2 separate regions of the Homo sapiens genome follow, and region 1 is linked to region 2. Evidence: fine-mapped QTL for protein levels in blood plasma. A gene starts in region 2. The other region holds a variant in brackets. All regions are shown on one strand. Distances are between the middles of the regions.

Region 1 (5,376 bases), 13 kb before region 2:
GGAACAAGAAGCCAGTATCCAAACTCCTTGGTATAAATGGGGAGAGTCAGTTTGGGGTGGTTGGGGGAGGGGGGGAGGGTCCTGGATCTTCTGCCAGAGAAGCTGGTTAGACTTTCTCTCACTCAGATGGGAGTTTCCAGGGGACAGGATGTAGTCTTTGATGGCCTTTCCTGACAGGGACTCTGAGGAGGAACCCCGTAGACTCACAGAGAAAGAATCGAGGCCTTACTCTGCCACCAAATTGCCATGGGGTCTTGGACAGGTCTCTTCTTCCTGGGGCTTGGTTTGGGCATGGGAAAATGCAAAGTTTGGAGTAGATGATTTTAAAGATTAATTCCAGCTTTGGTTTTATGAAGGCAGTGAAAAACAGGAGAGTTTTTGGACCAGAAATATTGAGACTGGAAGGAGTAAAGGATGGATTTTGTGTGGGAGATTTCCTGGGAAGATGAAATGAATTGGAGCCCCTTTCCCCAGGAACAAATGAGAGCTCTCCTGCTGCTTTGAGGGATCAAAGCAGGGAGAATAGAGAGGACCCTGGGGTGGTCTGTGATCCTAGGCACACCCATTCCTCCTTCAAAGTGAGCCAGGGGTAAAGGTGTCACTGTGTGTGTGTCAGAGTGAGAAATGAGACAGACCGAAGAGAGTGGAGAGTTTGCAGGTTCTCCCATATCTTCATTCCTGCCTTTGAACCCCTGGCCTGCAGAGATGATCTTCTATCTTTGCTTACACCATTCATTTTCTCTCACTTGCTCTAATCTCTGGGTAGACTTACCTTCTAGAAGTTTTTCAGATCCTTCAGCTCCCTCAGTGCTCATCTCCTGGGAGAATTAAGGTGTGTCTGCTCACACCCCCTCTGCCTGTTTTCCTCCTCCTTCCAGGCCTCATCGTCTACCTGGGCATGATGGTGGGAGCCTTCCTCTGGGGAGGTCTGGCTGACCGGCTGGGTCGGAGGCAGTGTCTGCTCATCTCGCTCTCAGTCAACAGCGTCTTCGCCTTCTTCTCATCTTTTGTCCAGGGTTACGGCACTTTCCTCTTCTGCCGCCTACTTTCTGGGGTTGGGTGAGTGTACACTTCCTAAGTCCCTTGAGGGCAGGACTGTGCCTTGGTCACTGTTGTATCTTTAGGGCCCAGCACAGTGCCAGGCACACCAAATGCACCTTAAATCTGTGTGAGTTGAACGGATGAATGAGTTCCTTTCTCCCCCAGCCATCTTCAGGCCAGCTCCTCCCTGCCCAGGACCTGTCTGCTGCTGTCCAGAATGCTGTTCCTTGGCCCACTCCTGAGTCCTCCACCCCACCTCTAGTTCCATTTTTGAGCCTGCCTCCACAAAGAGGCCTAGTGGGCCTCAGCCCCACCCCTGGGCTCCTGTGGACCCAGAGTTACCCCCTACCAGAGTCTACACATTTCCTGCATTACACAACAAACCTTGCTAACACCCACACCTGCCAGAACCCTGACGCCTTGTCCGCACTGCCCCTTCACTTTTGCAAGCATGGCAGGCCCGCTTACTCTGCTTCAACTCCAAGCTCCTTTCTGGCCATTCCCACAACATCTGCCCTTGGAGGCTTTTGGCTTGTCTTTTTTCTCTGGAGATTTATTCTCTTTTCTGCAATTACTTTCCCGCCCTTCCAACTCTGTAATTCATTTTCAAGATTTAAGATTTGCTCTTTCCCTTTCCCTGAGACTCGCTTGCCTGTTTCCCATGGTCCCAAGGATGGGTGCTTGATGGCTGGCCCACATGGGAGCTTGTAAGGCTTTATGTGTGAGATGGAGTCTCTTCAAAAGCCTGGAAGACAAAAGGGGCTCGGGGTCCAGAGCAGTGGGGCAGGGGATCAGGACTATGGCCATTTGCTAATGCTGAATTCTTGAAATGCACTTCAGGATTGGAGGGTCCATCCCCATTGTCTTCTCCTATTTCTCCGAGTTTCTGGCCCAGGAGAAACGAGGGGAGCATTTGAGCTGGCTCTGCATGTTTTGGATGATTGGTGGCGTGTACGCAGCTGCTATGGCCTGGGCCATCATCCCCCACTATGGTGAGCAGCCCCCGGAAATCCACCCCAGGTTATCTCCCTCCTCCCTCTTCTTCTGTGCTCCCTGTGGTGGGTTCCCCCAGCCTCTGGCCTCTCTGCTGATGCTGTCACTTTCTCCCTACCAGGGTGGAGTTTTCAGATGGGTTCTGCCTACCAGTTCCACAGCTGGAGGGTCTTCGTCCTCGTCTGCGCCTTTCCTTCTGTGTTTGCCATTGGGGCTCTGACCACGCAGCCTGAGAGCCCCCGTTTCTTCCTAGAGGTGATGGGGCTGAGCTGCATGGGGTGGGGTGGGGTGCGGGCTGTGGAGTGTGGACGGCAGCAGGGGCTTCTGTGTTCAAACACCAACTGGAGTTTGATTTGATCCTGTTTGACTGCCTGCCTTCCTCACAGAGTCCACTCTCCAGGGGACTTTATCTTGCAT[T/C]CTTTGCCTTGGAATGTGTCCCTGAGGGGTTCTTGGGTGGAGAAACCAGGGGACCTCTTTACCCATGGATGACTTAAGATTTTGCAGGGAAGGGCCTTGGCCCTGTCCTGCATTTACAGCTCAAGAGACATTCCCACCCCCTATACCTTCCCCTCCTAACCCCAGCAGGATTAGGTCTTTGACTACATGCTTGCCCATCATTTCCCTTACCTTTGGTTTTTACATTCCTCTGTACTATGGAATTCCCAAGACCTGTGCTTGCCTTTTTCCCCTGGACAACACTCCCCACCCCCAACCCGCAGCTCTTGCCCAAGTCTGATTGTCTTGCTATACCTCAGCTTGGGGCTCTTTCAGAGTGGTGAGTGCATGCCCATAGGTCAGGGCTTGGTGGTGGGGTTGAGGGCTGGGAACCATTTAGTGTCCTGTGACTACAGAAGCCAGGTGGGAGGGAGGGGGTCTATAACTCTGGGTCAGGTAGGGGCTGACTTGGATGTGGGGATTGTGTCTTTGGCTCTAGAATGGAAAGCATGATGAGGCCTGGATGGTGCTGAAGCAGGTCCATGATACCAACATGCGAGCCAAAGGACATCCTGAGCGAGTGTTCTCAGTAAGCCACAGCCCTCCCGACTCAGACCTCCACGCCCTGCAGCCCCAGCCCCTACCTGGCCCCTCTCTGAGTACCCCCCACCTCAGACCACACTCTACCGTAAGGAGATTTTCAGGGTATCATATCCACCTCCTGCCTCCCATTTTGCTAATGCAGGGGAAACTGAGGCGCCTGGCCGATGTTGGGAAACACAGAGTGTGTGACTGCCCACCCCTTCTCTTGACCCCAGGTAACCCACATTAAGACGATTCATCAGGAGGATGAATTGATTGAGATCCAGTCGGACACAGGGACCTGGTACCAGCGCTGGGGGGTCCGGGCCTTGAGCCTAGGGGGGCAGGTAATGGTGGACGGGGTGGTAGATAGAAGGGAGTGGGGGAAGTGGAGAAGAAGGCAGGACTGAAGTCTATGTGTGTGGGTGATGGGTGAGCTGAAGGGAGGTGGGAGGGCAGAAAAGTGGGGATCTATGGGTGCTAGAACTTAGTATAGTCAAGGTCTGACTTTGTCTGGTCCCCTGTAGGTTTGGGGGAATTTTCTCTCCTGTTTTGGTCCCGAATATCGGCGCATCACTCTGATGATGATGGGTGTGTGGTTCACCATGTCATTCAGGTGAGGAGATGGGTGGGCTGGGTGATGTGTGGTGGTTGTGGTGGTGTGTGGGCTGGGAGAGAGGTGGGGAGAATGGAGATGCAGGGGACAAGCGATGAGGGAAGGTGCCATGCAGACCCCCTCTGATCCTGCAGCCAGCTCCTCTACTTCGCTAGTTCACTCAACAAACTTGTACTGTAGGCTGACCAGGATTCAGTTTCTATTCTGTGCTGGGATGAAACAGATGTGGTCCAAGGTCCTCCTGGAGTTTATGTTTTGGTTAAGAAGCAGGACGATGAGGCTCGTAATCCCAGCACTTTGGGAGGACGAGGCGGGCGGATCATGAGGTTAGGAGATCGAGACCATCCTGGCTACGGTGAAACCCCGTCTCTACTAACATACAAAAAATTAGCCGGGCATGGTGGTGGGCGCCTGTAGTCCCAGCTACTCTGGAGGCTGAGGCAGGAGAATGGTGTGAATCCGGGAGGCAGAGGTTGCAGTGAGTCGAGATCGCGCCACTGCACTCCAGCCTGGGTGACAGAGCGAGACTCCGTCTCAAAAGAAAAAAAAGAAGTGAGACGAAACTTGCTATGAAGCAGGGTGATGAGAGAAGGGTGGGGGAAGGGCAGTGGGAGCACTTGGGGCTTGGGCTGGGGTGGGGACCTAAGTCCTCAAAGGTGAATGGGAGTCAGACAGGTGGAGTGGGGGTGGCTGGGGTGGAGAAGAGTGTTTTTGGCAGAGGGAAAAGCAAATGCTTGGGAGGTAAGAAAAAGTATAGTGGCTGCTGTGCGAGACCCTGAAGTCCCCCAGGAGCGCAGCAACTGTTGAAGGGAGGAGCAGGGAGAAGCTGGTGAGGCTGGAGAGGAGCAAGGTCCTAACAGAGGTTGACTCCATTTCTCCCTTGTTCTGAGATGATACACATTTCCGTTTTCTCCTCTGCCTGATTCTAATCTCTGAGCCTTGTCTGAAGCCCTGTTGTCTGTTTCCATTGTCCTTGACTCTTCAGCTACTATGGCCTGACCGTCTGGTTTCCTGACATGATCCGCCATCTCCAGGCAGTGGACTACGCATCCCGCACCAAAGTGTTCCCCGGGGAGCGCGTAGAGCATGTAACTTTTAACTTCACGTTGGAGAATCAGATCCACCGAGGCGGGCAGTACTTCAATGACAAGTATGTGGGGACTTTTAAACTTCACTTCTTCCCTGTTCCTTCTACCTCGTCTCTTTTATGAGTCTAGGGGTTCAAGACAAGACATTTGGGGGGCAAACACTTGTGGTTTCTTCTCAATGCCCAGCTTCCCATTACTTCGCTAAAGAGTGAGTCTTGGAGGGGGCATGAGGATGACGGGGGAGTGTCTTTCACCATCCTGGCCTTACAGGTTCATTGGGCTGCGGCTCAAGTCAGTGTCCTTTGAGGATTCCCTGTTTGAAGAGTGTTATTTTGAGGATGTCACATCCAGCAACACGTTTTTCCGCAACTGCACATTCATCAACACTGTGTTCTATAACACTGGTAAGGCGGGGTGGCTGGTGGGTGTCAGACCAAAGGGTTGGGTGGACCTTGATGAGAAGGAACCTTTTTCATTCACTATCTTAGGGTTCTCAAGCTGAGATCCCTGGACCCCTGTGGGAAGGTGGCAGAGGGGCCTGATAGCTACCACCAATAATTCTGAAAATCTAATGGATGTTGGACATTTTCCTGTAATAGAATATCTGACAAAAACATCAAG
Region 2 (5,366 bases):
ACCGATGGCCCCGGATCCCGCGCTGCCCTGGCACAAACAAACGCGGCCAGCCATGGAGACCAGACCCAGGACCAGCCGCCCACTCAGCATGGGCTACGCCAGAGACTCAGACGCCAGGAGTGAGGGTCGGGGCGATCCGCCTGGTGAGAGCACAATGTCAACACCCGCCCCGCGATCCCCGCATCCGCCCTAACCCCACGCCCGGACGTCCACACCAGCTCCTATAGGGAGCCCGCCTTGATGCCACACGGGGAGACCCGAGACACCGCCCCTTTTCTCTACGTGACGTGGTGAATTCGACCTCCAGCTGTGGAAGTGAAGGGACAAGCGAAGATTAGAAAGGCCCGCACGCGAGGCGCGTTCGTTCCTTAGGGGATTTGCAAAGAATGGGCAAAAGTAGGGCATGTGCAACTGCGTACTTGTGGTTGGGCCGAAGCCCCTGTGTTCCCTGTGAAGCCCCGGAGACGCCCCTTCTACCTGCCGCTCAGCCTCGGCCACTGCGATTCCCGCTCAGGGCCAGGACTCTGGACGCTCCGGAGCAAAATGCAGTCCTGGCGCCCTTCCTGAGGCACGCTGGGAAATGGAGTCCTCGCTGCGCGTTGGTAGCACGGGCAGGCACCACGTGGTGCCCTGAGGGCTCATGGGAACTGTAGTCTCGGATTCTCCCCACTGGTAAGGTGGTCAGAAAGTCTGAACCCAGCAATGCAAAGAAAAAGGGAATTCACGCGCAGTTGGGATTGGGATTATTAGATCTATTTTACTGCCAATAGATCTTGTAGATCATCCAGCCCAACTCCTTTATTTTATATGCAAGAAAATGGAAGTCTGATTGAATACATAATTACTGTGCCCCAGACTAGTGCTGGGGACTGGGGAGTCAAGTCAGGCCCTGTTTTCAAGGAGACAACAGAGCACTGAAGACTAACAAGTGAGCGGACAATTGCAATACTGGGTACTAGGTGCTACGATGAGATAAACACAGGATGCTAAGGAGGCAAGTTACCCAGACTTGGCCGGGGTTGGAGAGGTGGAATGGGAGGCGGGCAGAGAATATTTCCGAGATTTAGGGAAACAGTTCAGCAGAAACAACATGAGAATCCATTTCTCAGTCCCTCATAGTGAGGTTTTGGCTTTGGTAGCTGCATGTGTAAAGGACAGGAGGAGAGAGAATTTTGAGGGAGTCTTTCCTTCTGGTGTAGTTAGGGTGTGGTTATGTGTGGTTGGAGCCTAGGGGGCAGCTGATGGTGATGAGTAGGGTACCAGGAGGAGAGGAACGGGCCAGACCACCCCAGGCCTTGTAGCCCTTGTTAGGCAATTTTGTCTTTATCCTAGAAGTAGTGGGAAGCTACTGAGGTTTTAAGCAGGGATGTAACAGGATGTAATTTTTCCAGGATGATTCTTAACTTGTAAAATTATTTAAATTTTATTTTGTATCCTTAATATATTTACATATTTCTAAATGTTTTTCCCCAACTTCTCATTTTGAAAAATGTCAAAGCCACAGAAAAGTTGAATAGTTCAAAGCAACACCCTCTACCTTTCACTTGACCCACCATTTTTTGCATTTATATTTATTTTATACTTGTACATATATACTCATATATTTAAGTACTTTACATATACTTTAAAATATATTTATATGCTTTTTTGGATGAACCATTTGAAAGTAAGTTGCAGATAGCATGACATTTCACCCCTAACTACTCCAATATGTATCTCCTAAGAACAAAGATATTCTCATACATAACCACAATAACCTTATCACACTCAAGAAATTTAAACTATGACATACACTGTTTTCCCTAGCCTTTAAAAAAAATTAAAACTTCCAGAAAATTTGCAAGATTAATACAATGAGCAACCCATTTATCCACTCTTCACCTAGGTTCACTGATAAGATTTTGCCAGACTTGGCTTTGTATCTCTTTTAATGTATGTGTGTATAATAATAATGAAATAATAATAATTATTTCTGCTGAATCACTTGAGTTAGGTGCAGAAATCTTATTTATTTATTTTTTTTTGAGATGGAGTTTTGCTCTTCTTGCCCAGGCTGGAGTGCAATGGCGTGATCTTGGCTCACTGCAACCTCTGCCTCCTGGGTTCAAGCAAGTCTCCTGCCTCAGCCTCCTGATTAGCTGGGATTACAGGCATGTGCCAACATGCCCGGCTAATTTTGTATTTTTAGTAGAGACGGGGTTTCTCCATGTTGATCAGGCTGGTCTGGAACTCCCAACCTCAGGTGATCCACCCTCCTCGGCCACCCAGGATTACAGGGATTACAGGCGTGAGCCACTGCGCCTGGCCCAAAATTCTTTTTTTTTTTTTTTTTAAACAGAGTCTCACTCTGTTGCCCAGACTGGAGTGCAGTGGCGCCATCTTGGCCCACTGCAACCTCCACCTTCTGGGTTCAAGTGATTCTCCTGCCTCAGCCTCCTGAGTAGCTGGGACTACAGGCTGGTGCCACCATACCTGGCTAAATTTTTTTGCATTTCTAGTAGAGATGGGGTTTCACCATGTTGGCCAGGCTGGTCTGGAACTCCTGACCTCAAGTGATCCTCCTGCTCTGGAACTCCTGACCTCAAGTGATCTGCCTGCCTCAGCCTCCCAAAGTGATGGGATTACAGGCGTGAGCCACTGCACCCAGCCACAAAATTCTTTTTTTTTTTTTTGAGATGGAGTTTCGCTCTTGTTGCCTAGGCTGGAGTGCAATGGTGCGATCTTGGCTCACAGCAACCTCCGCCTCCTGGGTTCAAGCGATTTGCTTGCCTCAGCCTCCCATGTAGCTGGGATTACAGGCGTGCGCCACCACTCTGGCTAATTTTGTGTTTTTAGTGGAGACGGGGTTTCTCCATGTTGGTCAGGCTGGTCTTGACTCAGGTCATCAGTCCGCCTCGGCCTCCCAAAATGCTGGGATTATAGGCGTGAGCCACTGCGCCTGGCCCCACAAAATTCTTTACACTTAATTGCTATGTACTTTCAATGTGTATCTCCTAAGAACAAGGACATTTTCATACATATCCACAATACCATTACCACATCCAAGACATTTAACATTCATACAATACTATAATCACATACAGTTGATATTCAGATTTCCCCAACTGTCTCATTGGTGTCTACTATAGTTTGAATATGTCTCCTCCAGAATTCATGTTGAAAATTAATCCATGGTGTTGGTATTAAGTGGTGGGGCCTTTAGGAGGTAATAAGGCTATGAGGGCTCCACCCTCAAGAATGGACTAACGCCTTTTGAAAGAGCTTGAGGGGGTAAGTTGGCCCCTTCTGTCCCTTCTGCCATGTAAGGTCACCTCGATGGCGTATCTATGAGGAACTGGCCTTCACTAGATACCAAACCTGCCAGTGCCGTAATCTTGGACTTCCCAGCCTCCAGAACTGTGAGAAAATACATTTCTGTTTATAAATTACCCAGTCAGTGGTATTTTGTAATAGCAGCACAGTCTAAGTAAACATTATAAATGTTTAATTTTCAGAAACCAATCAAGGATCATGCATTGCATTTAGCTGACTTTAAGTTTGTATTCTGCAAAGATCACTGGCTTCAGGGTGGAGAATGGATTGTAGAGGAGGCAAGAGTGGAAACAGGGAGACAAGTTGGGAGGTTACTGTAGCAGTCTAGGTGAGAGATGATGATGATTTGGACCAAGGTGGTGGTGGTGGTGGTGGAAATGGAGAGAAATTGTGGCTACAGGATGTATATTAGGAAAGTAAAACCTACAGGGTGTGGTAATGGCTTGGTTGTGGGAGGGAAAGTGTCAAGGATAATTACAAGGTTTGTGCATCTAAAGTTAAAAAAAACAGTTCAAATAATTCCTGTATATCCTTTATCCTGATACCTAGATTACCCAAATATTAACAATTCACTGTTTGTTTTATTTGTATGTACCTATCTACAAATATATAATTATTTTCTGGACTGTTTGAGACTAAGTTTCAGAGATAAAGCCTATTAAACTCTACCTGTGATGGTTAACTTTTTTTTTTTTTTTGAGATGGAGTCTCACTCTGTCGCCCAGGCTGGAGTGCAGTGATGCAATCTTGGCTTACTGCAACCTCTGTCTCCTGGGTTCAAGTGATTCTTGTGCCTCCGCCTCCTGAGTAGCTGGGATTACAGGCGTGGACAATGGCGCCTGGCTAATTTTTGTATTTTTAGTGGAGAGGGGGGTTTCACCATGTTGGCCAGGCTGGTCTCAAACTCCTGACCTCAGGTGATCCACCCACCTCAGCCTCCCAAAGTGCTGGGATTAGAGGCGTGAGCCACCACGCACGGCCTGTGATGGTTAATGTCCCAACTTCTAGAGGATTGGTGCTCAGATATTTGGCCAAATATGGGTGCTTCTGTGAGAGTATTTTGAATGAGATTAACATTTGAATTGGAGACTGAGTAAATTGCCCTCCCTAATATAGGTGGGTCCCATCCAACCAGTTGAAAGCTTGACTAGAACAAAAGACTGACCCACTCCGGAGTAAGAGAGACTTCCTTCTGCCTGACTGCTTTGAGACCCGGACATTGGCTTTTCTCAGCCTTCAGACTCAGAAGTAAACACTGGCTCCATCTGGGTCTTAGACTCGGCCTTTGGACTGGAACTACACCATTGGTTCTCAGGCCTTTGAACTTGGACTGGAACTATATCATCAGTTCTCCTGGGTCTCCAGCTTGCCAACTTACCCTGAAGATCTTGGGGATCTTGGGATTTATTAGCTTCCATAATCAAAAAGCCAATTTTTTATAATAAAACTATCTATCAAAATATCTACCATTCGTTCTGTTTCCCTGGAGAATCCTGACTGATGTATATTTACTTAAAAAAAAAAATTTTCTCACATAGCCGGAATATAACTGTCAGACTCTAGAAATGAACACAGATACGGTACTATTATCTAATCTACAGACCTTATTCAAAATTTGCCAATTGTTCCACTACTATCATATATATAAAATGAAAAGAAATATCTTCTGGTCCAGGATCCAATCTAGGATGACGTGTTGCATTCAGTTGTTATATTTCTTTGTTCTCCATTAACTTGAAATAGTTTCCTAGATTTTCTTTGTCTTTCATGACTTTGGTAATTTTGAAGTTACAGACATTTATTTTGTAGAATGTCCCTCAATCTGGGTTTGTCTGATGTTTCTTTATGATTAAAATTTAGCACATGCATTTTTGGCTGGAATACTGCAGAAGTAATGTTGAATTCTTCTCTGTGAACCTTACCAGGGCACGTGATCTTTTTGTTATTACTAGTGATAGTTCTGATCACTTGATTAAGATGGTATCTGTCAGGCTTTTCCACTATAAAATTCCTTTTCTGTCTGTAATTGTGGAAGATACTCTAAGTGTATCTAC

Which allele goes with the higher level. Alleles are on the strand shown, and positions count from the first base shown. The strength of an association depends on the size of the effect and on how common the allele is.
For the plasma level of the protein whose gene starts at base 582 in region 2, allele T in region 1 goes with a higher level than allele C (strong association).

Evidence for each region. PIP is the chance, under the fine-mapping model, that this variant and not a neighbour inherited with it causes the effect. The UK Biobank Pharma Proteomics Project read protein levels with antibody pairs (Olink). The fine-mapping took linkage between variants from a reference panel, not from the people measured, so its PIPs are less certain.
Region 1: its variant is fine-mapped to the plasma level of the BOLA1 protein (UK Biobank, PIP above 0.99).

What each region holds. Positions count from the first base shown.
Region 1 is chr1:149,907,483-149,912,858 of GRCh38, reverse strand. It overlaps SV2A (synaptic vesicle glycoprotein 2A), which reads left to right. Exons shown (of 13, transcript NM_014849.5): 3 at 879-1,059; 4 at 1,882-2,033; 5 at 2,156-2,289; 6 at 2,969-3,058; 7 at 3,288-3,398; 8 at 3,579-3,667; 9 at 4,653-4,817; 10 at 5,026-5,159. Among named protein-coding and RNA genes, the nearest start is that of SV2A, 7.7 kb to the left of the region's middle. RefSeq lists enhancers at 1,681-2,180, 2,181-2,682. The variant T/C (reference allele first, on the strand shown) is at 2,452.
Region 2 is chr1:149,894,784-149,900,149 of GRCh38, reverse strand. It overlaps BOLA1 (bolA family member 1), which reads right to left and starts at 582. Exons shown (of 2, transcript NM_016074.5): 1 at 478-582; 2 at 1-140. The coding sequence starts at 90. It overlaps LOC124904412 (a long non-coding RNA gene), which reads left to right and starts at 602. Exons shown (of 2, transcript XR_007066597.1): 1 at 602-672; 2 at 4,429-4,774. RefSeq lists an enhancer at 489-548.